7 linked regions of the Homo sapiens genome follow. The protein of the gene in region 2 purifies or fractionates together with the protein of the main gene of each other region. This does not show direct contact. Each region holds a gene or a part of one and is shown on either strand. Other genes may lie near its edges. The genes, in order: RAB6B, SLC35B3, TMEM59, WRNIP1, LRIG3, DSG2 and RBM42.

The links.
Region 1: the proteins of SLC35B3 (region 2) and RAB6B purify together in Homo sapiens (affinity purification with mass spectrometry; one large-scale study listed by BioGRID and IntAct). This does not show direct contact.
Region 3: the proteins of SLC35B3 (region 2) and TMEM59 purify together in Homo sapiens (affinity purification with mass spectrometry; one large-scale study listed by BioGRID and IntAct). This does not show direct contact.
Region 4: the proteins of SLC35B3 (region 2) and WRNIP1 purify together in Homo sapiens (affinity purification with mass spectrometry; one large-scale study listed by BioGRID and IntAct). This does not show direct contact.
Region 5: the proteins of SLC35B3 (region 2) and LRIG3 purify together in Homo sapiens (affinity purification with mass spectrometry; one large-scale study listed by BioGRID and IntAct). This does not show direct contact.
Region 6: the proteins of SLC35B3 (region 2) and DSG2 purify together in Homo sapiens (affinity purification with mass spectrometry; one large-scale study listed by BioGRID and IntAct). This does not show direct contact.
Region 7: the proteins of SLC35B3 (region 2) and RBM42 purify together in Homo sapiens (affinity purification with mass spectrometry; one large-scale study listed by BioGRID and IntAct). This does not show direct contact.

The regions. Positions count from the first base shown.
Region 1 is NC_000003.12:133,836,883-133,840,382, forward strand, and holds part of RAB6B (ras-related protein Rab-6B), read right to left. Parts: intron 2,736-3,500; coding exon 2,624-2,735; intron 1,378-2,623; coding exon 1,284-1,377; intron 1-1,283. UniProt on the Homo sapiens protein: The small GTPases Rab are key regulators of intracellular membrane trafficking, from the formation of transport vesicles to their fusion with membranes. Rabs cycle between active GTP-bound and inactive GDP-bound states.
Region 2 is NC_000006.12:8,429,046-8,432,545, reverse strand, and holds part of SLC35B3 (adenosine 3'-phospho 5'-phosphosulfate transporter 2), read left to right. Parts: intron 1-271; exon of another isoform or gene 272-339; intron 340-2,388; coding exon of another isoform or gene 2,389-2,481; coding exon 2,482-2,682; intron 2,683-3,500. UniProt on the Homo sapiens protein: Probably functions as a 3'-phosphoadenylyl sulfate:adenosine 3',5'-bisphosphate antiporter at the Golgi membranes.
Region 3 is NC_000001.11:54,050,405-54,054,464, reverse strand, and holds the start of TMEM59 (transmembrane protein 59 isoform 2 precursor), read left to right. Parts: upstream 1-1,260; 5' UTR 1,261-1,276; coding exon 1,277-1,465; intron 1,466-4,060. Other genes in the region: TCEANC2 (transcription elongation factor A N-terminal and central domain-containing protein 2), read right to left, coding at 1-42.
Region 4 is NC_000006.12:2,771,893-2,775,392, forward strand, and holds part of WRNIP1 (ATPase WRNIP1), read left to right. Parts: intron 1-1,045; coding exon of another isoform or gene 1,046-1,106; exon of another isoform or gene 1,107-1,159; intron 1,160-3,500. UniProt on the Homo sapiens protein: Functions as a modulator of initiation or reinitiation events during DNA polymerase delta-mediated DNA synthesis. In the presence of ATP, stimulation of DNA polymerase delta-mediated DNA synthesis is decreased.
Region 5 is NC_000012.12:58,882,505-58,886,004, reverse strand, and holds part of LRIG3 (leucine-rich repeats and immunoglobulin-like domains protein 3 isoform 2 precursor), read left to right. Parts: intron 1-102; coding exon 103-174; intron 175-2,413; coding exon 2,414-2,485; intron 2,486-2,972; coding exon 2,973-3,136; intron 3,137-3,500. UniProt on the Homo sapiens protein: May play a role in craniofacial and inner ear morphogenesis during embryonic development. May act within the otic vesicle epithelium to control formation of the lateral semicircular canal in the inner ear, possibly by restricting the expression of NTN1.
Region 6 is NC_000018.10:31,515,177-31,518,676, reverse strand, and holds part of DSG2 (desmoglein-2 preproprotein), read right to left. Parts: intron 439-3,500; coding exon 403-438; intron 1-402.
Region 7 is NC_000019.10:35,635,111-35,638,185, reverse strand, and holds the end of RBM42 (RNA-binding protein 42), read right to left. Parts: intron 1,029-3,075; coding exon 834-1,028; intron 745-833; coding exon 632-744; 3' UTR 501-631; downstream 1-500. UniProt on the Homo sapiens protein: Binds (via the RRM domain) to the 3'-untranslated region (UTR) of CDKN1A mRNA.

The sequences.
Region 1 (3,500 bases), on a different chromosome or scaffold from region 2:
CTTCTTGTCTCTTCTTGTCGTTCTGCCAGCCCACCTTCCCCACTGCCACCAGCACTGTCCACACAGGGCAAACCATCACTGCATCCAGAAGGCCAGTGCTGTATACACAGCTTGCCAAGGGTTCCCAGCAATGCTGGGGTGGCAGGGCAGAAGCGACCGCCAGGCCAACCACACTCCTCACCCAGAGTCCCCTCCCCATACCTCGGGCACCCTGCAGCCACACCTTTGCTGCTCCCCTGCTTGGCATGCCCTCCCTCCTCACCACCTCTCCAAGTCCTTCTCATCCCCAACGGCAGGAGTTCTTAACCCTTCCGTGAGCCAAGGACCCCTCTGGCAATCTGGTTAATCCTATGGACTCCTTTGAAGTATGTGAAATCAATTACATAGGATGATAAAGGGGACTACTGAGTACTGAAATAAAACTTCATCGACATTTGTGCTTCCTTATGAAACACATTGAACAGCGAGAACTAGCAAGAGATCTAATAAGTAGTGTGATGCTGAAACACTGATAGATGTGAAGTTCAAGATACCTGCAACACTATGAGGTGATGGGAAGGCATCTGTGATTTCTATTGGTGGTAAAGCCATAGGCACTGCTAATGTGACTGAGTGTCATTGCCTACATTCATCATTGAAGGACAAATCAGACGTCCTTCAGTGCTACGGACGGGTCAGTGGTTAGTGAAGATAAAGGTGCAATGTTTTCCAGCCCTGTCTGCTGACCTGCTAAATTCCACCCATGGACTACTCAGGGGCCCTCATGCTGCAAGGCTCAGCCCTAACTCCACTGCCTCGCCCTCCTGTGAGTTCCAACCACATCATGGTAGGCTCTTTCCCCCAGGCCTGAGTTGCCCTCCACAGCCCTGAGCACTTGCTAAGCGCAAGGCATGAACCCCAAATGCTGATCAGATTGAATTTTCCTGCACCTGTCATCCAAAGTGGGGTGAGGGGCTAGGGAACCACTGCTTCCCTCAGCCTCCTGGAAGCTGGTGGCTGGACACTCTTAGGGCCTGCTACGTGGGCCGTGACTGGCAACTACTACGGTGGCTGGTGACTTATGTTCTCCAGATGCCATGCCCGGAGTGGTCCCTCCCTCTTTTGGGCTTTACCAGCTCCGGAAATTAGCTCTCCCCTCCCTGGGCGCATCTATGGGTGTTCTGGTTGGCTGCCCCAATCCCATCACCAGCCCTTCAGGGCAAGGCAGCTCTGAGCCTGCAGCTGACCACAGGGCTACACCGTGCCGGGCCCCGTGCCGGGCCCCGTGCCAGGTGTGTCCTCACCTGCTTCACGTTGTAGCCAGTCTTCGCACTGGTCTCAATGAACATGACGCTCAGTTCTTTGGCGCGCTGCTCCCCCTCCTCGATGGTTATCTGCCTAGAGATGAGGGGAAGGGGGGAAATCAGCTCAGCAGAGAAGCAGACCCTGGCAGATATGAGGAGGGACCCACCCAGCAGGGCAGAGGGAGCCCACTGGGCCCTTGGTCAGTCCTGAAGACAGGCTCTGATCCCAAGGGTCCCTCCCGGGCACCAACCACAGTCTCGCTAGCACAAAGCAGGCACCAGGGAACAGTAGGACACTATCCGCTTCCCCCACTCCTTCCTTTGTGTCTTCTCAGCTTCAAAGCAGGCCCTGGGGTAGGGCTGCCCCATACCTGCCTTTCCCAGTAGTCACTACTGCAGAGCCTGTGCTTATGAAGAGATTCAAGCCAGGCAGTGCCACTCTGGGTGGTATTATCAGTCGCATTTTCCCTGTGAGAACACTAATGCTAAAAGTGTCTCCCCCAGGGCCACAAAGCTACTTAGCAGAGAGGGCTCCATGATGGGGCAGGCAGAAGTGGGTGAGGGTATGAAGGGCCTGGGTACCCTTTGTACTGGGATTTGAGCCCAGTTTTCCTTACTTTAAGGACAGAACTCTAGTAAAGCAGGCTCTAATTCAGATGATTCCTCAGGTGGTCAAGGGACGCTGCAGGAAGCCCACACTGCTTGCTGGAGTCCATGGCCTGTCACTTTATCTGCCCAAGTCAGGGTCATGTAAAATGAGTGGACAATGTACACACATGGCACCTCAGTTCTCCCTGTGCATGGAGGGCAGCATGGAGGAGCCTCTTCAGAGAAAGCTTCATGCCAGACGCAGCCACAAACCAGGCTAAGCAGGCTACGGCCATAGGTTTGTGGTCTGAATGCTCTGCATGCTCACACCTAGGGCCCAGGGCATTCACAGCCCCACGCACATTGGTGCAGACACTTCACAGGCACAGACAGTTCACAGTGCACACGCTGGGGCCTAGAGGACTGCTGTGTCTGGGGCAGGGCTGTGGCCATGGCAGGGCCTTAGACCATGCACTGCTGGGTCAAGCCAGGTGCACAGTGCTCTGTGTAGACAGCAAACGGAGAAGTGCCCCGCCCCTGCCTGGTGGTGGAAGACAGGGCTTCACAGATGAGATACCCATGGATGAGAGTCTACCAGGTGTCCTCAAAGCTCCTAGTGTCTCAAGGGACCTTTTCCGGATGCATGGTCAGAAGCACAGACACACCACCCATGCATCCCAGAGCTCCCTGTCCAGGAGCAGTTACAGAGGAGTGGAGGGTGGCACCCTGCACCTGTGTGCCCTTGCACCTACCTCTTATCAGCCAGGTCCGTCTTGTTGCCCACCAGCATGATGATAACATCACTGCCCCTCTCTGTCCTGACGTCGTCGATCCACTTAGAGGTCTGTTGGAAGGAGTTGAGATCTGGAGGCAGAAAGTGAGGATAAACTGAAAGCCAGGGCCAGCCACCAGTGGGAGATGGGAAGGGGAGGTGTGAGCCAGGAGCAGGAGGGAGGGTGAGCATGTGCCCTCAGATACCCAGGGAGGGGTGTGAGCTCAGTCAACACAGATCAGCTGGGTAGGGCCTTTCAGAGGGAACCGGGCCCTGCCCTGCGGCCCTGGGGAGCCACTTGCACTGTTCAGCCACCCTTTGTGGGAGAGGAATCACCCCATCTGGAAGATCACAGTGTCATGATTTGCCACATGGAATAGTGGCTTTAGGGGCCCACCTGAGAGACCTGACTCTGGGGATTCAGAGTGGAGAGTGAGAACTGGGTCACACGTGTGTGTGCATACACACACACACACACACATGCGCGCGCGACTTGGCAAGTTTGGGAACAGTGAGGGTGGGCAGAGGAGGACACAGCAGCCTCTAGGGAAGGAAGGGCCCTACTGAGTGGTGTCCCCACCATGGGAGCTCAGGAGAGTTTGGGGAAGGCCAGAGGGGTTTCTGAAGAGAACCCTCAGGCTCTGCAGATGAGAGGAGGGGAAAGGTGGCCCCGGGACTAGTCAGGGGAGCCAGGTGCACTCAAAAATCCAGGAGAGACAAGGCCACTTCTGGGCAGCCTGACCCCCCTCAGCTGCCATGATAGGCCTTGCAGGGCAGAGCAGCTATAAGGCAATACCCACCACTCGGCAGCCTGCACACCCAAGGGGAGGGGAGGTAGCTGTCCTCAGAAGCCTCAG
Region 2 (3,500 bases):
ATTCCAAAGCATGGGGAAAGCATTATGCTATACTGCTTTCTTATACTATTACCTATAATTGTATTGAGTCATTACAATATGCTTGGCAGTTTACTAAATTACAAACATCTCAGAAGAAGGTGACTTTGGGAAAGCGTGACCTTCTGGAGAAATGTTTTGATGCCAATAAAAGCAGGAAAGAAAGATATTTTCTAGAAGTTTTATTTATTCTGTATGTATGTGTAAATATGTAAGCATTATTTGTAAATTTTCCCCACTCTTTTTCTATAAGATTTTCAGTTTTGCTCATAAAGTTTGCCAGTACCACCATCCATTTCAAAAATCGTATCCAAGCAGAAGGTGAGTGATTGCAAGCTGAAGTTTGAGGGTATCAAGAGGAAGGATCAGTTTATTTGGTTCATCTGAATATCAGGTCAGAGTATATGCCAGGTACCAAGGACACAGAGACAAATAAGATTTGAATCTTGCCTTTCAAGTTCTCTTTTCTAATAACTGGGGGGATTAGTGATGGTGTCACAAAGGAGGGGATATTAAAGCTGAACTTCCAAACCTGACCTTGAGAAAGAAGACCTCAGGCTGAAAGGACATCATGAACAGAAGGCAGCGGTGTTTTAAAGTCCCTGGTGTATTTCAGGAATGAAACATGGGTGGTTTAGGGCTTTATTGAGAGTGGAGGGAGAGCAAACTTAGAAACCTATGTAAGGCCGGGTTTATTTGAATGGTGCACTATATCCATGCTCACACATAGAAAAGAGTAAATTGTTAAGGTTTTCGTCTCTTCTACATTCAAGCACAGGTTTGACCAAATATTTAGGAGAGATAATTTAAAGCATGGTTTTAAAAGAAAGTCACATCTCAAAGATACCCTGCAAGATTACATAAAAAGTCTTACAAATGACAGTGATTGAAACATAATGTGGGAAGCAAGAACAAAGGAAAGTGAAGAATAAACAAGAGGAACACAGTAAACTTCATGAAACAACTTTTCTATTTAGAAATAAGGCAGGTGCCCTATAAAATGTTGTGGTGGCTGCATATTTTTAGTTACAAGTGGTATTCAGATCCTTGACCCCTCCTTTAATTCCTAAGGATGACCTGGTTAACCTCTGTAAATTAGCAAACTAGAAGTGATCATGAAGAGGCGACTCTAATTTTGGCCATTTTAAGCCATCTTGTAACAGTTTAAAAAAACATTACCAAAGGAAAACTCACTGTCAAAATTATTCTTATTTCTCTTCGTGCCGCAGAGTTTAAATTTTTGTTCCCACTGGAATTAAAAACAGATGAGTCGTTTCTAAGAAAATAACTTTTTCTTTTACATAGGTTTATTCTATACTTTGTCATAATTCTTCAGTCTTTCCTCAGTCTTTACATGGAGTTCATTTTTTCAGTTTATATAAATCCAAAGAGAAATTGATGGCTTCATAATTTTTTTTAGACTGACAAAAAATGACATGTTTTCTCCAGCCTTTTACATCCCAGAAGAATGTAAATTAAAATGATTTGTTCCAGAGGAAGAAAACATTTTTTAACCTAAGAGATGCTACTGCTGAAGCATATTGTGCTTTCTGTAGTCTCTGATAAATCTAGCTTTTTAAGGACCTTAGGTTTGGGGTTTCTTTGTTTTGTTTTTTTCATTTATTTTCTAGAGACAGGGTCTGGCTCTGTCGCCCAGGCTGGAGTGCAGGGGTGCAATCATAGATTACTGCAGCCTCAAACTCCTGGACTCAAGTGATCATCCTGCCTCAGCCTCCCAAGTAGCTAGGACTACAGGCATGCACCACCATGTCCAGCTAATTTTTTTATTTTATTTTATTTTATTTTATTTGGTAGAGAGAGGGTCTTGCTATGTTGCCCAGGCTGGTCTTGAACTCCTGGTCTCAAGCAACCTCTCTGCTTCAGCCTCCCAAAATGTTGGGATTACAGGCATGAGCCACCACACCTGGCCTTCATTTTTTTAGTTTATTTTTTAAATGTCATTAGCAAATATATCTTAGAATTGTCTTAGTATTTAAAGGAGAATTACTTATTTTTTACTCCTCTACAAGTGAAGATTGACTTTAATGTTGAGAATGTTATGCATCAACTATATATAGACACAAAGACATGTTTAGTTCTTTGATGAAATAACTAGCTTTTGTTGCTGTGGAAATAAGTATGGTTTATATTCAGTTTAATGATGTACTAATCTTTATCAGCTGTAGACAAATTGTTTAAAGATTGTAGGCATATTGTTTTTGGTGATTTGGAACCTAGAATACAGGAATTAATATACTAATATCCAGAGAGAAGCAGACATTTGTATAACTTTAAAGTATGATTTGGAATATTATTTGGAGGATTAAACTTTATCATGTAAATGTTTTAATTGCTTATTTCCTTCTCTAGGACTTGACACAGCAAGCAAAAGACATACAGAACATAACAGTCCAGGAAACCAACAAAAATAACTCTGAAAGCATTGAATGCAGCAAAATAACAATGGATCTCAAGTTCAACAATTCCAGGAAATATATTTCTATCACTGTGCCATCCAAAACCCAAACAATGTCACCACACATCAAGTCAGTTGACGACGTTGTGGTACTTGGCATGAATCTCAGCAAGTTTAACAAACTTACTCAGTTTTTCATATGTGTTGCTGGAGTTTTTGTATTTTACCTAATTTATGGGTATTTACAGGTAAAAAAGTTATATGTTTGTAATATGTTAATTATTTATAATAATTGCGGTCAGTATGGGCATTTACTAGTTTTGCCCAAGATAGTCACTTAGGGGATACTGGCTGATTCATAAATTTGAATTTTTTAGTATAGAGTAGAAAAGAGCTTCTTAACAGATCAAAATTCAAGAGTTAAATAATTTAAGTGGGGAGGAGGCATATGTAGAGACTATCTTGAAAAATTTTCATTATGAAAATTAAGTTTTAAATATTTAACAAAATGTGTGCTTCCAAGAGAAAGCAATGATTCACGTATTGATTGGTATCTTGGAATATTATTGAATGATAGTGCAGTTTACTTGATTCTTGGAGCTCAATAATAAAAGATCATTTTTGCAAAAATGTATCAGGATATTTTATGGTTTTCTAAAGGTATCTCTTTAATCCTATAATATTTGAATTATTTCTTTTTTAAACACCTCTTATATTCTCATTCTTATTGGTTTTGTCTTCTAACTTTGCCAGAATCTTATTGTTCTGTGATTTTTTGCTGGCACAAAACATTTCTGATACTGCAACAATTTGTCTTATATTTACATTATATTTGGAAAAGTTATATACCTTTGGCTAGGAGCAGATTTCTGACCTTCAAAGACATGGGCTGGATGGGTGAGGATCCAGGCTAGTGAAAACAGGATGTTGGAATGGGTTCTAATTTTATGAATGGTCATTTAATTAGTGGATATTTTCCCATAACTTGAGAAAACCTTTGTAATTCAAGGAAAGGAAAATGATGTATTTTCTTAAAACACAGATATTTCCAGTATTCTTTAGTACT
Region 3 (4,060 bases), on a different chromosome or scaffold from region 2:
GCTATTCTGGATTCTAGGCGTTCGAATGACGAATTTATCCATTGTTAGGGGACTCCGACTACCTTGACGTGCTTGCAGCGTGTTCTGGTCAAGAAAGAGGGCAGATTCTAAAACCCCACTAAAGACTGCCATGATATTTTTTCCCCAAAGTAACACAATTGAGTTCTCTGGAAGAATTCATGAATTATGGGGCCTCGAGTGGAATTGACAGGAAGTAAGATTTTCTCTTTAAAAGAAAGATCTTCCGAAGAATTGAAACTGTAATCAATCATCAGTCTACGTCCTGAGTTAGGAGGTTCCTAGCTTCCAGAAGTGCACGCTCTAGCGAGGATTCCAACATTGGGGGAATTGGCCCAATATTGGAATCCCCGCTAGAGCGTGCACCTAAGCCCTCTTCCAAATAAGATTGGGCTGTGAAAGGGTTAGGATTACATTAGGCTCAGTGACGCCCTCTTAACAACCACCTCACCACAGCCATAATCCCAAGGGTTGCCCTGGTAATCAGCAACCGACAACCACCTCCAGAACTCAGCAGAGGGTCTCACAATACGCAGCATCCCCTAGAACAAACTGCTCGGTGGTCAGAGGACCCTACCCACGGCTGTAATCTCTGGATCCCCGAACAAGGAGAAACCCCATCCTCCTCGTTCCCAGCACTCAGGAGCCCGGGTAGGGGCACCCAACAACGGTCTGACGTGAGACCCACCAGGAAAAGCAGCCCTGGTAGCTGCTGTTGGCGCCCTCCAGACTGCAACCTCGTAGGCTCCCAAGCCCAGTCGTCTGTGTTGAAACTAAACAGACGCTTCCTCCCAGGGCGGTAGTTCCTCTGAAGAAACTCCGCCGGCCCTCGCGCCTCTGGGCCACAGCGAACCACATTCCCCAGAATGCACTGCGAAGAAATGCGGGCGGAAGGCGCGCTGAGGGCGGCTGTAGTTTTCCGAGACCAACTTTCCCGACAGCACCGTGCGCCTCCCGCCTACGGAGAACTACATGCCCCAGCCTGCCCCGCGAAGGGAAGAAGTCAGGAGGCCCCGCTTCGCGCTAACGCTTGCGATGGTTGAATTCCCCTCCTCACGCCAGCCTAGGAGAAGAAGTTCGTAGTCCCAGAGGTGAGGCAGGAGGCGGCAGTTTCTGGCGGGTGAGGGCGGAGCTGAAGTGACAGCGGAGGCGGAAGCAACGGTCGGTGGGGCGGAGAAGGGGGCTGGCCCCAGGAGGAGGAGGAAACCCTTCCGAGAAAACAGCAACAAGCTGAGCTGCTGTGACAGAGGGGAACAAGATGGCGGCGCCGAAGGGGAGCCTCTGGGTGAGGACCCAACTGGGGCTCCCGCCGCTGCTGCTGCTGACCATGGCCTTGGCCGGAGGTTCGGGGACCGCTTCGGCTGAAGCATTTGACTCGGTCTTGGGTGATACGGCGTCTTGCCACCGGGCCTGTCAGTTGACCTACCCCTTGCACACCTACCCTAAGGTAGGGCCCGTCCGGAGCGGGCTGCGACCCTTCCCTTGCAGCCCATTTCTCGGCTCCCCACACGTATGTCGGCTCTGGCAACCTGGCTGTTAAATCGGCCCTTCAATCGCTGTCTCCCATCTGTGTAGCTCCTGTTTTCCTCCCTAATCCTGCCTGCACCCCATTTCTGCTGTCATTACCGGAAGTTTGTCCTGCACTACCCTGTGATAGGCTGGGGGACACAAAGATGAGAAAGACGCGATCCCTTTCCTCTGGGAGCTTGCCGGGCTGCAGGGGAGTCGAGCACTCGGAGGAGGATAGGGGAGGATATGGATGATTAATGCGGGGTCCTCACCTAAGGGAGCGTAAGGGGGGATTGTAGAAAGGGAGGCGCAGATACGCGAGTCCACAAATGATTGATTGATAACCCTTGTTTACTAAGCGCCTCTCGGGGCCAGGAGCGCAGTCTTCGGGGAGTCAGACAAGTAGACGATTCCACTGTGGTATAAAAAGCGTCACGAAGGCAGCTCAGGGAGTAGCGAGACGCTCAGGAATGCTGTCTGCCTATGTTGAGTTACTGTGTCCAAGACGCTGCCAAGAGGGACTGGGTTAGAGAAGAGGCAATTAGGTGTCTGCCTACCAGAAACTGACCACTCAGTGCAGAAAACGGGGAATTCGTGGAGTGGGTGAAGAAATGAGACTGTGGACAGGAGGGGGTTCGCAGCTTACAGAGAGGAATGGCCCTCCTCTCTATGCTTCCCCCCTTTCTTTTAATTACATACCTAACCCTCTTCACGTTGGTTTTTCAGCCTAAGAACTCTGTTTACTCAACATTCTAAATTGCTTGATGATTCCCACCACACCTTTCCCATGTATGATTTGAGTATATGCCCTCCCCCACGTTGTTTTATGAGAGCTTTTGTTGATGTTGCTGGTGGTTTCCTCTTCGTTTTTCCTTCATCTCCTCTATGCTATTTGCTTAACCATTGTGGCTGGACCTCCTTGCTCTCTAAAACTGGAGTGGCTACGGAGACAGTTCCAGTGAAGCTTAGGATGTTCCATATTGGCGAGTATTTTCAGGTCTTTGAAATGAAAAGTTCTAAGTGCCGGCACTTCTCAGATTTTGTTACGGCTGGATTTTAAACTGCATGGAGATTATCAATTTTCAAAAAAAAGTGTGGGAGAAGGGACTGTACTAAATTTTTCCAGAGATTTATGTAACAATCGAGAAAGAAGTGAGAAGTTTTAACTTCAGACTTAAATCAATGAATACTGCTTCTAACCACGTTATTTTTCTCCACCTCTTGTAAACTTCTCATCATTAAGAGGATTGTATGAAGAAGCTCATTAATATTGATTTGGCCTGGAATTGGGTTGAGACTTACTTTCTATTGTTCTAGGGTTTGTTTCCTTTTTTGGGATTTTCTCGGCAATTTTGTGGTATAAACCAGAATGTTGGGAAAATAATCAAATAATTTGAAAGGATACCTTCCTGGAAGTTGTAGGTACTTTAATAATGTCCACTATTTTCTAACAATTGGTGTTATATCTATAAACTATTTTTACTTATTTATTAAAGCTTTTCTCACAAAGAACTCCAAATCATCTGGCTCCCTATAGGTCCTGGACTTGAAATTTATATAGACTCCACTGTTAGCCAGAGTGATGGGAGATTTATCATACCATTATCCCTAATTCTCACAACAACCCTGTAAAGTAGGGTTTTAAAATTAAGGAAATTGAGGCTCTGAAAGGTTAAGTGACTTGCCTAAGGTCACATACCCAAGAAATAGTGGAGCAGGAATTCAGCTTAAAACTGGCTACACTATGCTGCCTCCTATTAATAAACTTGCATTAAACATATTCGGCCGGGTGCGATGGCTCACGCTTGTAATCCCAGCACTTTGGGAGGCCGAGGTGGGTGGATCACCTCAGCTCAGGAGATTGAGACCAGCCTGGACAACATGGCAAGACCCCGTCTCTGGAAAAAAGAAAAACAAAAAAACTAGCCAGGCATGGAGACGAGCACCTGTAGTCCCAGCTACTCGGTGGGAGGCTTGCTTGAGCCTGGGAGGCGCAGGTCGCAGTGAGCCGAAATGTCGCCAGTGCACGCCAGTCTGAGAATGAGACCGTGTCTCAAAAAAATAAAAATAAAAAAATGCCGGGCGCGGTGGCTCACTCCTGTAATCCCAGCACTTTGGGAAGCTGAGGCGGGTGGATCACCTCAGGTCAGGAGTTCAAGACCAGCCTGGCCAACATGGTGAAACCCTGTCTCTACTAAAAATACAAAAAAATTTAGCCAGTCGTGGTGGCGGGCGCCTGTAATCCCAGCTACTCAGGAGGCTGAGGCAGGAGAAGCGCCTGAACCCGGGAGACAGAGGTTGCAGTGAGCCCGCGCCACCGCACTCCAGCCTGGGCGACAAGAGGGAAACTCTGCATCAAAAAAAAAAAAAAGAAACATATTTAATTATGTCACTGATTTCTATTGGCTCTCCTCTGTGCTTTGTGCTCCAGGAAAAAGCACTGTGTATTGTAAGAAATTAGATGAATTTTCAAACTCACATAGCGTTTGAAAAACGAGATAGAAATCTCGTTTTAGGCTGGGCGCGGTGGCTC
Region 4 (3,500 bases), 5.7 Mb from region 2:
GGTTATCGTAATGTATCTGCAACTTAATATTCTGCATGTGTACTTGTCTGGGGTGATTTTTATTGATTTCATGTCATCAGTTCATGAAATAGAACATGAAATCAATAATTAATATTGATGACATGAAGTCAATAATAATCAGTTGTTACTCAGATACCCTCAGGTTTTTTCACCTCTCCCCAGTCACTGCCGTGCAGGAATTTAAAGGAAATGAGAAAGGCGGCAGCCAAGGAGCTCATCCTTGTGAGAAGAATTTCTATATTTTATTATTAAAAATCCTCAGGTGATTTGCAGGCACATTAAAGTTTGAGAAGATCAAGTGAAATAATTAAGATTTAGTTATTGAAACTGATATAACAATGAGCTAGAGATTGTTTATCTGCTAAAATTGCTTTTCAGAGAAAACTTCCCATATCCAGTAAATGATTTACTATTTCCACTACCGCTTGCTTAGACTTGATCCCAATTATATTTGCTATCTTGTGTCCCCCGCTTTCCTGGGAAGACTGTGAGGACAGGAGCTTGTCCCTGTTCATATCCCCAGCACAGTGCCTGGCACACATTATGTGCTTTGTGAATGGTTTGGAAATGAATAAATCCTAGCTTTCGATATGAGAAAAGTAGTTTAATATGTTTTGCATTATCCAGCATAAGGGATAATTACCCAGGTATCAAGAGCCTTTTTCTTTAATACTATTGCCCTTTTCATCAGCAGCAAGCAGAGTAAAATGAAAGAATGTTAAGCTTAAAACCATTAATTGGTCAACTTGTTAGCAATTCTAACAAGAAGTTAAGTTAGGAGATATCATAGGCCACAGAAAGAACTCTTACAAGTGATTTCCGAATACAAGTACCTGCCACCCCAACTGTCAGGGATAATTAAGAGTGGATTGGGATGTCTTTTAGTTGTTTTAGGTAAAATTTTGCTTTCCAATCCCTGTTGACAGCTCTATATACATCCTTGTGCATATAAATCAGATTTGGTGACACTAATCTAGTTGAAAGAAAAGACTTCCAACCCCATATACTTACTTTCTCTCTCCAGGAAGCTATTGGTGTGCATTTGTATTCTTGTGTCATGTTTTGGTGCCCTAGATAGCAACTAGAACATTTACAGAGAAGTCCCAGGCTGTTGAACTGCACGTGAGAGGAGGTGAGCAGGGCACTGGATTTGGAAACTAATCAAGCTGCCGCTTAGCCGTTCTTGATTGCACTTGAGGAATTGTGAGTTGTCACACAGTATACTCATGTAAGTGATAAATTCCCATTAAAGTGAAATAAGTGTTCTTTTTTTAAAAAAAAATTCCCTCCTGTAGTTATTATTCAGTCAAAATTGAAGCTCCTGCATATGCTAGGCATTGGCTGAGGGTTGAAAAGCTTGTTCCTGTGCCTTCAGAGGGAGCGCAGTATGATGAAGGCTAGGGGAGCAGGTCCACTTCCAGTGCCACGCTTATACGCCAAGTGCAGTGGGCGTAGAGAAGCAGCATTCAGAATATGTGAAATCCAGTATTTCACCTCCTAGATGAGGGGATGCGGAGTTGAGTTTTGAAGGATAAGCAGAATTTAACTGAGTGAAATAGAAAGCTCATTGTCTACGCCATAGTTGCTTTGGTTTGTATGGCTAAGCAGTAGTGTTCAGGTATTTTGCTCTCCCAAAAATATTTGGATCACATGATACAAACAGTGAAGATTCTGTCTGCTCTGGGTTAATTTTGGAGGCCAGGAAAAAAATGTCCATGATTCATGATACGAAGAATGAGCTTGTGCTGCTGAAAATGAAAAAGTAAGCTAGCATTTCGTCATCCTGCACTACTTGCTGCTTTGAAGGAATATAGATTCCTAGGTCATAGAATATATACATAGTCAAAAACACTCCTAAAGAATCAATTATTTGTGAACCAGATAGAGTATACAAGTCTTTGGAGATCAAGAGAGTGAAATGAGAAGCCATAACTGCCCTCTGCCTAGCTAGGCTGAGTTCCGAGAGGTGGTTGGAAGACAGAAAGTGGCGTCTGTCCCTGGGTAAGGGCTGTGGCGTAACTGGGTGTGGGGCTTTTCTCTAATCATCTGGAGAGGAGAGCCCCTGACAAGCTGGCCCCCAAACAAGGTGGCTATGGATTCTTCTTTTTATAAAAGTTTAAAGTGTCTTAAATAACCTTTTGTGCCATTGAATAGAAAGAAAGGTAGTGGAACTCCAGAATACAAGGGATTGGCCAGAATAAATGGTTGGTATAGAGTAGATGTCAATCTTTTTATTTAAAAATTTTTTAAGTACATTAATACAGTACATTAACATAGCTGTTTTAATACAAGGGTGCATTAAAATAATGCCATAAAAGCACCAGCAGCCAGAACCACAGATCTCATGGTCCTTGGATGCACTTCCTGTGGCTGCTGTAACAATTGCCACAAACTGGGTGGCTCAGAACACAGAGCTTTATCCTCACAGTTCTGAAAGCCAGAAGACCAGAATCAAGGTATCAACAAGGCGATGCTCTCATCCAGCATCTGATGGCCCTTGGCATTCCTTGGCTTATGACTATGTCACTCCAGTCTCTACATCCATCTTCACATGGTGGCCTTCTTCTCTGTGTCCTTACGTCTTCTCTTTTTCTGTGTTTTGTAAGGACATTTGTCATTGGATTTAAGGTACACTCTAAATCCAGGATGATTTCATCTTGAGACCCTTAGTTACATCTACAAAGACCCTATTTCCAAATAAAGTCACAGTCACAGGTTCCAGGGATTAGGACTTACATCTTTTGGGGTCACTATTCAACCCACTACAGACCCCTACCAAGTATAATGTAATTTGGAAAGACATGTGCCTCCATGGGATTAAACAGAAAGACGTCGTCATCTGAAATGTACCTTCTCTCTTTGTGGAGAAAGTCAGTTTTGTTTTGCTTTGCTTTCACTCTGATGTTATGGAAGCGGCAGCATCTGGGGCTCTGCCTTGGATATGTGCAGTTCTGGAGAGTATGCTGTTGCACAGTCTGATGAGGGTGATTCTCCTCGCTGTTGATACCAAAGCAGTATTTGTCGAGTCTCATGACATGGCAGGCACTGCTCTAAGCATTCCACATGTCTTAATCTCATTCAGTCCTCAATACAGCTCTGCAAAGTAGATCTCATTACCTCCTATTTACTAGATGAGGAAACTGAGGCACAAAAAGGTTAAGTAACATGCCCAAGACCAACCAGCTTCAATGTGATGGAGCCAGTGTTTAAGGCATGTCTCTGTCTTCTCAGTGACTTCAAGTGCTACAAGGGGTGGAGGTGCCAAGTTTACAGAGGATGGACCCACTGCTCGGTTTTTCTGTTCTGACTTTTCTCTCTTGGCACTTCTTTGTGTAAGAGCAGCAGGAGAGCCTTTTAACCAGATCTGCACATCACACTTCCCTGGGATACATTTTAGAAACATGCCTTGCCCAGGGTCTGCCCCTGGAGATTTGAGCTCAGTCTATGGTAGGTAAGGTACATGTGGCTGTATTTGTGTC
Region 5 (3,500 bases), on a different chromosome or scaffold from region 2:
TGGAATTGCTCACACATAATTTAAAAAGCAGTTCTGTTTATGAGAGTTCCACCCCAAAATGGCTTTTTAAATTAAGTGCTCCAATGTAATTTTTTTCCCCAGGATACTCCAAGGAAATCGGATCCGTTCTATTACTAAAAAAGCCTTCACTGGTTTGGATGCATTGGAGCATCTGTGAGTAGCTAGAATTTAGTTACCCTAAAAGAGAATCTCTAAGATGGTTTTTACTTATGTGTCATGAAAGATAAAACAAACTGGAATGTAATTTTGTTGGCATCCTTCCGGTTCCATAAAATATATTTAAACATCTCCCTATCTTTCTATTTCTTTCTCTGTCTACCTACTTACCTACCTACCTATATAGAAGTATACAGGTGTATGCTTTCCTTTGTATTTAAGAACAAAAGCTATATCTCCTTAATGGGTTTTTAATTGTTTTTCTCAAACAGTGATTATTTAATTAAAAAAAAAACAAACTACTAGGTGTAGTTCATCCACTATATATCAGGCATTGTACCACATATTCACATATATTCTCATTTAATTCTTAGTCAGAATACAATTCAATAGCTATTATTATCTTTATTGTTAAGCGGAGGTTCTAAGAGTTTATTGATTCCACTGGACAGTTAAAGGAGATGACTTGGCTTTTAAAGAACAAAGACAATGTTCCACAATCCTTAAGAGTGACATAGGAGAGTTTTAGCACTACTTTGAGAATTGTTGGTCTCTTATTGTTGTTTAATTATGAAACATACAACCCCCCCTTACCATTGTTCTCTTTTTTGTTGTTTTCTTTTGTTTCGTCTTGACCCACCAGTTAGTAGCTGTCAGAAGCAGGACGCAACCCAGAGCTGCCCCGACTTGCACAGTGTCCCTGCATCACACTAGCTCTTGCCTGTACAATCTCTGCCGCTACTCCCAGTAGCTCCTAGTAACTCCTGGCACACATTTCTGAAATGTCATTTAGGGGCTCAGGAATTTTCAGCCACTAAGAGAGGAAAGCTAGCTAACATTGATAGGAATCAAAACTTGCATGTTTTAACTAAGGGAACCAACCAGCTGCTTATAACCATGGATGTATGTTTTACGCTTGTACAGTAAAAGTACAAAGTAATGTATAATATCGACTCTGACTGTTAAGGAATGCTTGTATCCAGAAGTTTTAATATGTATTAACCAGGACAAAAGAAGTTACAATTTAAAATACATATTGGGTTCTCCTATGTGTGCTGTGTATTGAGAGTGAAGATTTAGCTGTTATCTGTAAACCACTGTGTTGTCACCTTCTGACTGCACCAGTTCCTCTGAGGGAGACTTGGATCGTGAGCCACCCAGACAGTGAGTGCGGCAGTTCAAATTATAGTAGAATGATTCTGCAAAGCTGAGTTTTGGAAGGGCAGACCAACATTGCAGTATTTATTGAAACCGATTATTTTGAAAAGAAAACTAGCCAAAAGGGTTTGTCATTTGGCCCATTCCGTTTCTGGGAACGTGGAATTAGTGGATCAGTGGAGTATTAATCTCTGCTTCAGTTTTCTTAAATCTTCCTTGATTGCCCCAGCCTCTTCGTCTAGCCATGTCTGGTCCCTTCTTTCTTTGTCTTCTCTTCCCACTTGTCTCACTCAATATTCCCTTTGTATACTGTGACCCCTGTAAAGAAAAACAGAGTGGTAATCATTGTGGTGAATACTTTAATGCAGAGTGCTTATAAGTCTCTGTATAAAGAGAATTAATCCAGAATATGTGCTCATTTTATGAATTTCCTGCCTGAAGTATTGGTTTTAACAAGTATATCTTGTCTGAACATCTTACTGCGTTTATGTTAGTGAGCTGTGGGTGACAGAATTAGGTTAATGGTTAAAAGCACAGGTTTTGGAATTGAAAATAATTGTTTCAACCCTTACCTTCCCCTTTCGTGCTGAGCTAAGTAGTAATACCATCATATTTTGGGTTGTTGTAGGAATAAATGCAGTAACACTTGTAAATCACTTAACTGAGTGCATATCTTCAAAAATACTGTGTAAATGTTTTATAAAAGCATAATTATTTTTATTTTTTATTTGTATATTTTATTTGTATATTTAGAAGTTTCCAATAGTTGCTAATTTGAATAAAGAGTAATAGAATGAAATAATAGAACAGCATGGGCCCTAATGAGTCAAATAATCTTTAAGTGATGACAGAAAGTGAATCTTTTTCACTAAAACAAAACCTATCTGTGATACAAATGCCCTGGGTCTTCAGCACAAGCTTTGCAGTGGATTCTTCTGGGGCTGCCCCAGTCATGTATTTGACACATAGAGGGAGTATTTGTTTGGCAAATGGGGTGGGCAGTGGGGGCCCAAACTTTGTCCAAAAGCACGAAATGATGGTAGTTTGCTCTGATGCATTTGATTTGGTGATTTTTCAGAGACCTGAGTGACAACGCAATCATGTCTTTACAAGGCAATGCATTTTCACAAATGAAGAAACTGCAACAATTGTAAGCTTTTCTTTTCCTTCTAGGAGTCTGAAAGTATAGAGGGGAAAACTGTCATATGGTGTGGCATCCTGGATTATGTATCTATAAAAAGTGCCTGGCACATTCTTAACATTACTTAATTTTTATACTAGGCAACAGAAAAGGAGTTTATTTGTTCTTTTTGTTGAAATGAGTTTTTCTTTCTATTTTAAATTCGCAACTTTGTGGGACCAAATATAGTACAGTCACCCAATATAGTAGTAATTTTTTCAGTTGTAAGGAACTTTTGATAAATCAACACTTCTGTCTCAGTAGGACAGTAAGAACAACAGAAAATCATGCTAGATACATTTCTTGTATTTTAAAATGGACTGTGGGATACTTATTCCATGGGATGTGTGTATTCAGTTTCCAAATTCATTGCTTTGTTAATATTTACTTGGGTTTAGTTTACTTGTAGAAATCTGCATTTCATACAGAACAAATTGAATGTAATTACTCTCCTCAGGCATTTAAATACATCAAGCCTTTTGTGCGATTGCCAGCTAAAATGGCTCCCACAGTGGGTGGCGGAAAACAACTTTCAGAGCTTTGTAAATGCCAGTTGTGCCCATCCTCAGCTGCTAAAAGGAAGAAGCATTTTTGCTGTTAGCCCAGATGGCTTTGTGTGTGGTGAGTATAAGTATTGCCCTTGCCTTTTATTTATTCTTCTTTTTTCCCCCTCCCATTTATCCAAATAATGGTTTTGAATAGATTTATGATCTCTTTATAAAGCTTTTATTTCTGCTGAGGTAGAGGAAAATGGGTCTATAGTTTGCTGATTATTTTAATTTCACAGATGGGAAAGAGAGTTTTCTAAAATTGCTTCATCTTTGTTTTGGCATCAGGATGGTGCGGTGGAATGAGAATGAAATTGGATCTTGGGAGAATGGAAGGGTAATCTCAGCCCTTCTACTTAACTTAAATTCCCTAAATATTAGTCTCTGCATCCATGAAATGGGGACTCTCCTTTCTTCTCTTCCCAACTCTGAGGCTT
Region 6 (3,500 bases), on a different chromosome or scaffold from region 2:
ATACCTCACAAAGTATTCATTAACAGCTTGATTAATATCTTTTATGATTTTTCATAACTATACAGTTGCACATATATACACAGATGCATAAAGGTCTTTTTGCTATAAAAATGGACTTACACTATATATCTTATTTTGCCCCGATTTTCATTCAGCACCTCGTCATGGACATTCTTTCATGTACCATAAATGGTTTTAACATTCACCTATTGGTGGATATTTACATTGTCAAAAACTGCTGCACTGAATACCCCTGGATAAGCTCCTCTGCACTTGTTTGAATGGGAATGGCTGGGTCTAATACAACATGTGTCTTCAATCTAGTAAAGCCCAGTCAACCTGTTTGCCATGGAATTAACCCTCCTGAGTCAGAAGGCAGAAATAATCCCTTTGTTTCCTCACCTGTAAGTGAAGTCCACTTCCAACGTTAAAGCAGATCTGTAAAATAAAATTATTTGATATTTAGCCAATTTACTGCTCAATTCAGTGTGAAAACATTGTTCATGAATAACCTACTGCATTGAATATTATAGACATAAAAAAAGTTTAACCACTACTACTATTCTTTGTCAAGAGGAAACTAATTTTTCCCATTGCCTTCCCTAATGGGAAGTGCCCGAGGAGAAATCTATATTCTCCTGGATCCATACTGACTCCTCCAGAAAACAGTATCTTAAAAAACAAACAAAATAATCTGCCTTGTGAAATCTTAGACATTCTCTCATCCTTTACTCCGCATCCTATGGTTTTTATCTTGTGTTCTCCAGGACCTGCTTACTTTTCCTCGAGGCCACCAGTATGTAATGTACCCCACACCCAGCTAACTCCCACCATCCCTATGGATGTGTGTGCATTATACACACACAAAAAAACACACACCACACACACACGGACAGCCCATGTTCTGACTTCTCGGTTCCTCAGCATCCTCAGTCCCACCAACTCTTTTCTTTGGTTCTTCATAGGCACTGTCACACTTGGGACTTCATCATGACCTAGTACTGTTCTAAATACAGTTATGCTTACTCTTAAATTTGCCCAAAAAACTCCCATCTTGCTTTCTGAATATTTTGCACTGTAAAATAATAATTTTAAAAATTGATGCATTAAAGATGTGCATAGTTTTGGAATACATGTGATAATTTAATACATTCATATAATTTGTAAAGATAATTAGTATACTTGGGATGTCAATTACCTTAAATACTTGTCTTTTCATTATGCTAGAAACATTTAAATAATTCTCTTCTAGCTGCTTTGATATGTATAATAGGTTATTGTAAACTATAGTCACCCTGCTGATCTATCGAACTAGTGTACTTATTTCTAACTAGTGGTCTTATTTCTTCTATCAAACCATATATTTGTACCCATTAATCAATTCTTTTCTTCCCCCACCTCCCCACTACCTTTCCCAGTTTCTGGATTCTATCATTCTATTCTCGATGCCCATGAGATCAAAACTTTTAGCTCCCACATATAAGTGAGAAGATGTTGTATTTGTATTTCTGTGCCTGGCTTATTCAGTTAACATAATGACCTCCACTTCCAGCCATGTTGTTTTGCTGCAAATGGCAGGATTTCCTTATAGTTCATTAATCTCCCTGCTGGCTTCCTTCTTCTCTTGGCTCAATCTGAACCAGCACTTTCTAATATGGTAGCTACTTGTGGCTATTTGGATTTTAACCGCAATTATTTGAAATGAATAATCCAGTTGCTCCACAGCCACATGTGCTAAGGGCTACCCATTTGGACAGGGCAGACAGAAAACATTTCCACCGCTGCACACAGTTCTACCGGAGCAGCTAGCAGACTGCTGCCTGCCACTCTGAAGATGTTGTCAGTGACCACCAGGGAGGCTTCATTTTCATGACTGCTATTCCTGCCTCACTTTTCCTCTCAACTCTAGAAACCTATTATTCTCTTTAGTTCTGACCATGTACTGGCAATATCGCTAGAGGAGGCCACAGTGGCTGAATAGATCCCTTACACATTCATGCTCTCAAATAGCTGCTCTTTCCATGGGGTGGCGGTTCCTTTCTAGTGTGACCATATGTCTGCATTTGCTCAGAAGAGTCTAGGTTGACACCTGCTGTGAGGCATTCCATCTGTTAACAACCCTTTCATCCTCAAAAGTGTGCTCACACTATAAATTATATCGTCACTTTGTCATTGCCTTACCCTTATTGCATTTCTAAAATAGGCATTCCAAACTTTAGGAGATGACTCTAGTCACACCTCTGTACCTATTCACTCTTATGAGATGACCCCATGTATTATTTGACTGAGACTATCTTCAGTCATCCTCTCCTTCCCTTCTTTCCCCACAGAAGAGGTGTCCTGACTCCTTTCCAAGGCAAACCATCGTTTGTGTGCTTTATTTGCAACTCTATTTGTTCTCCCACATTTATCTTCAAGAACCTTAATCCTTCCACTAACCTTTTATCTTCCTTCTCCATTGGCTAATCAATACATTTATTTCCTTCTGATTGGCAAACCAAATATATTTAGGTTTTCCTTATCTTAAAAAAAAAACCAGATCCCTCTCTTGTTTCTGTTAACAATCTATTGCTCTATATCCCTCTCTTACTTATAATTCCAAATTGAAATTATTGTCTATATGTATTGCTCCCACTACTCCACCTTCCATTTATGCATTAATTCACTGGACTCTGTCTTTGGTGTAGCTTTTCTCAGTTGTTTGCCTTTTCCCATCTGCATGGTCACATGGATCCACAAAGCCCTAGTTGGTACATCATGGGAAACAAGGCATTCCCTAAAATTTCAAAGTCTCTTTCACATCCTTTGCATTCATTTGAAAGCTTCCTGTAGGGTCCATTCCACAAGTGAATCTTTCAGCCTCTTTCTTTCCTTTCCATTGTCAGTTCATGTTCTTGGCTCTCCATTCCAAAGAGAAACTCAAGGAGAGCAGATGTTCAGCTTCTAGTGTGGGCTTCTCTGGGGCAGATGAACAATCATGGCTAATTCTCTATTTTATGATCAGATCTATGATCTCTTCTTCATTCTGTCTACTATTAACTTGCCCAGCTAGCAATGGCCAGAGATGTCTCTAACCAAAGTGGTGCTCCCCAAATTTATGTATTTTCAAAGGTGGCATGGTATGAAAAGCAAGGGAAAGCAATGCTGAGATAGATCACTTCTCTCTGCATGTTCCTTGGGTGGGAATTTTTGAAGAGAAAGATCAGTGCCTGGATCAGAGAGGTCCCAGTGTCCACATCATCAGGGAACAGCCTTAAAATTTAGTATATTTAGGCCGGGTACAGTGGCTCACACCTGTAATCCCAGCACTTAGGGAGGCCGAGGCAGGCGGATCATGAGGTCTGATGATCGAGACCATCCTGGCTAACACGGTAAAACCCTGTCTCTACTAAAAATACAAAAAAATATTAGCTGCCCGTGGTGGTGGGTGCCTGTAGTCCCAGCTACTCGAGAGGCTGAGGCAGGAGAATGGCGTGAACCCGGGAGGCAGAGTTTGCAGT
Region 7 (3,075 bases), on a different chromosome or scaffold from region 2:
CCTCACCCACAGGTCAGCGCCCCCATCCTGCCCTGACCACTCTGGGCTCTTATCGTCAGGGCACCGGGCCTATTTTCTGCACTGGACCTTGAGCTCTAACGGTGCAGGGCCCAGGACTTTTAGTCACCATTGTGTCCTCAAGCACTGTTCAGACCCTTGGTGAGAGTCTGCTGGATGGAAGAGGGCCTAGAAGCCTGTGAGCTCCAGAAGGGAAGGGCCTAGATCTCCTACCTTGGTGCTGAGAACACAGGAAGTAGCCAGGACACGGGGATGGGCCTCAGCTTGGCTTCACCCTTGCCATTGGCCCCCCTTTCTCCTCTGGAATAAGCAGCACTCAGCATGTGTGGAAGAGGTTTGAAGAGGGAATGGGTGCGCAGGAAGGGCTCAGAAGCCCCCGCCTGGGTGTTTGCCTGGGTAAACTCTCAAGGCTCCCCGCCATTTCCAGCTGTGGGGAAGCCAAGCCCTGCTCCCCACAGCGTGCTTCCATGCCCAGCCAGGGGTGGAAATGAACGTAAATTTATTGAAACTGGTTTTGGGGCAGGGGATGGGTGGACAGCTGGGGGTTTTCCAAAGAGAACTGAGGGAGGAGCCAGCGCCCGGCCAGGTGGGAGCGGGTGCCTGGCCACAGACCCTATCTCAGGCCCAGCTTCTTCTTTTCCTTCTGCTTCTTGCGGACCACGTCCAGATTCCGGTCCTTCCACATGCTCTTGCGAAGCTTGATGGGGCGCGAGCCCACATACTTCCCTGTGGAGACAGAGGGTTCAAGGCAGGCTCGGGTCAGGCTTAGGCCAGCGCCTGCCGCGCCTGCAGTTCCCAGGGGAGGCCGCACCCACCATTCATCTCACGCATGGCGCGCACGTAGTCGCTGGGGTCCTTGAAGCTGACGAAGCCGTAGCCCTTGGTCTTGCCTGTGCGCTTGTCACGGATCACCTTGGCCTTAAGGAAGGATGGGAAGCGGCTGAAGGCGCGTGCCAAGATGTCATCGTTCACCTCATTGCCCAGATCCCCACAGAAGATCCGGAAGTCATCTGGGGATGGGGAAGAGATGACATCAGAGGATGCAGAGGCCTTGCCCAGTGTCTACCTTGTCTGAACGATCCCACCTTTTCGGAGGTATCTAGTCTCTGCCTAGGGACCTCTTAGTAATAATGGTCAACACCTACTGACCCTGCGCCAGGAGCTCTGCTGGCACCTGGAGGGGTGTTTCCATTTCTGGCACTCCCAACCATGCTTTTACACTGAGGCACAGAGAGGTGAAGTCACTGCCCACAGTGACACAAGCAGGAAGCGGCAGAGCTAAGACAAGAGCTCAGGCATCTGGCTCCAGTCCTTACTTTTAACCTTGAACTGCACTGCCCTCCCCACCCCAGGGCCACCTCACTCATTCCTGTAGTAACACCCTTAACTCTGCCCTAGCCCTGGCCTTTCCTCTGAGCCTTGGTGTCCCTTGGTCCCCTGGACCCCTGTCACCCACTGGCTGCCCGTCATGGCACCTCAGGAACATGGGCTTCATCTTTCCTCAGCCCTGCTTCCTTGGCAAGGCCTGCCCTAACTCCCCCTTGAGACCTGGACATGCTGCCTGCTCCTCCGCCATGGCTGCACCCAGCTGACATTCTCATGCTGCCTCTGAGTTGGGCCTGTGCTTCCACTGAACATGCTCTGTCCCAATGAATCCCTGTCCCCACAAGGGAGGGGATGAGGAATATGAGGCTTAAAAGGCTAAGTGAGCCAAGCACAGTGGCTCACGCCTGTGATCCCAGCACTTTGGGAGGCTGAGGCAGGTGGATGACTTGAGCTCAAGAGTTCAAGACCAGCCTGACCAACATGGTGAAACTCCATCTCTACTAAACAATACAAAAATTAGCTGGGTGTGGTGGTGGGTGCCTGTAATCCCAGCTACTCGGAAGGCTGAGGTGGGAGAATTGCTTCAACCCAGGAGGCGGAGGCTGCAGTGAGCCAAGATTACACCACTGCACTCCAACCTGGGTGACAGTGCGAGACTCTGTCTCAAAAAAAAGAAAAAAAAAAAAAACAAAAGAAGAAACAAAACAAAACCAGGCTAAGTGACTTGCCCAAGGTCACAGAGCTAGGGTCTTCTCTGGGCCAGGTAGACGGTCCCAGGAGAGGGGGTGGAAGTCAAACACTGAAGCAGGAGGGGTCCATCTCCTTCCTCAGCCATTGCACGGCTGCCCCATGGCGTCTGTGATATGGGACACTCTAAGCACAAGTTAGGCAATGCCAGGAGCAAACAACCGGACAAACTCAGAAGGTGGGACATCATACATGACAACTGCCCTGGACACTTCAAAAAATATGTACAAAACAAAGAGGCAGGAAAGAGACCGTTCTTATTAAGATATAATCGAGGCTGGGCGTGGTGGCTTATGCCTGTAATCCCAGCACTTTGGAAGGCTGAGGCAGGCGGATCACAAGGTCAGGAGTTCGAGACCAGCCTGGCCAGCATGGTGAAACCCCGTCTCTACTAAAAATACCAAAAATTAGCCAAGCATGGTCGTGCGCGCCTGTAGTCCCAGCTATTCGGGAGGCTGAGGCAGGAGAATTACTTGACCCTGGCAGGTGGAGGTTGCAGTGAGCTGCCGAGATTGCGCCACTGCACTCCAGCCTGGGCGATGGAGCAAGACTCCGTTTCAAAAAAAAAAAAGAAAAAAAAAAAGATATAATTGAAGGACATAAAACTGCATGCATGCTGGTTCAGGGCAAAAACATTAATAGTTCTAACAGAGTTTTGGGACACCTAGGGAAATACGAATATAAACTGAAAAGAAGATACCGAATTAGTTAATGTTCTTAGACTTGATAATAGTATTATGATATGCAAAAAGTATCTCTTTTCTTTTTTTTTTTTTTTTTGAGATGGAGTCTTGTTCTGTTGCCAGGCTAGAGTGCAGTGGCCTGATCTCGGCTCACTGCAACCTCTGCCTCCTGGGTTCAGGCGATACTCCTGTCTCAGCCAACCGAGTAGCTGGGATTATAGGTGCCTCCCACCAAGCCTGGCTAATTTTTTTGTATTTTTAGAGACACGGGATTTCACCATGTTGGCCAGGCTGGTCTTGA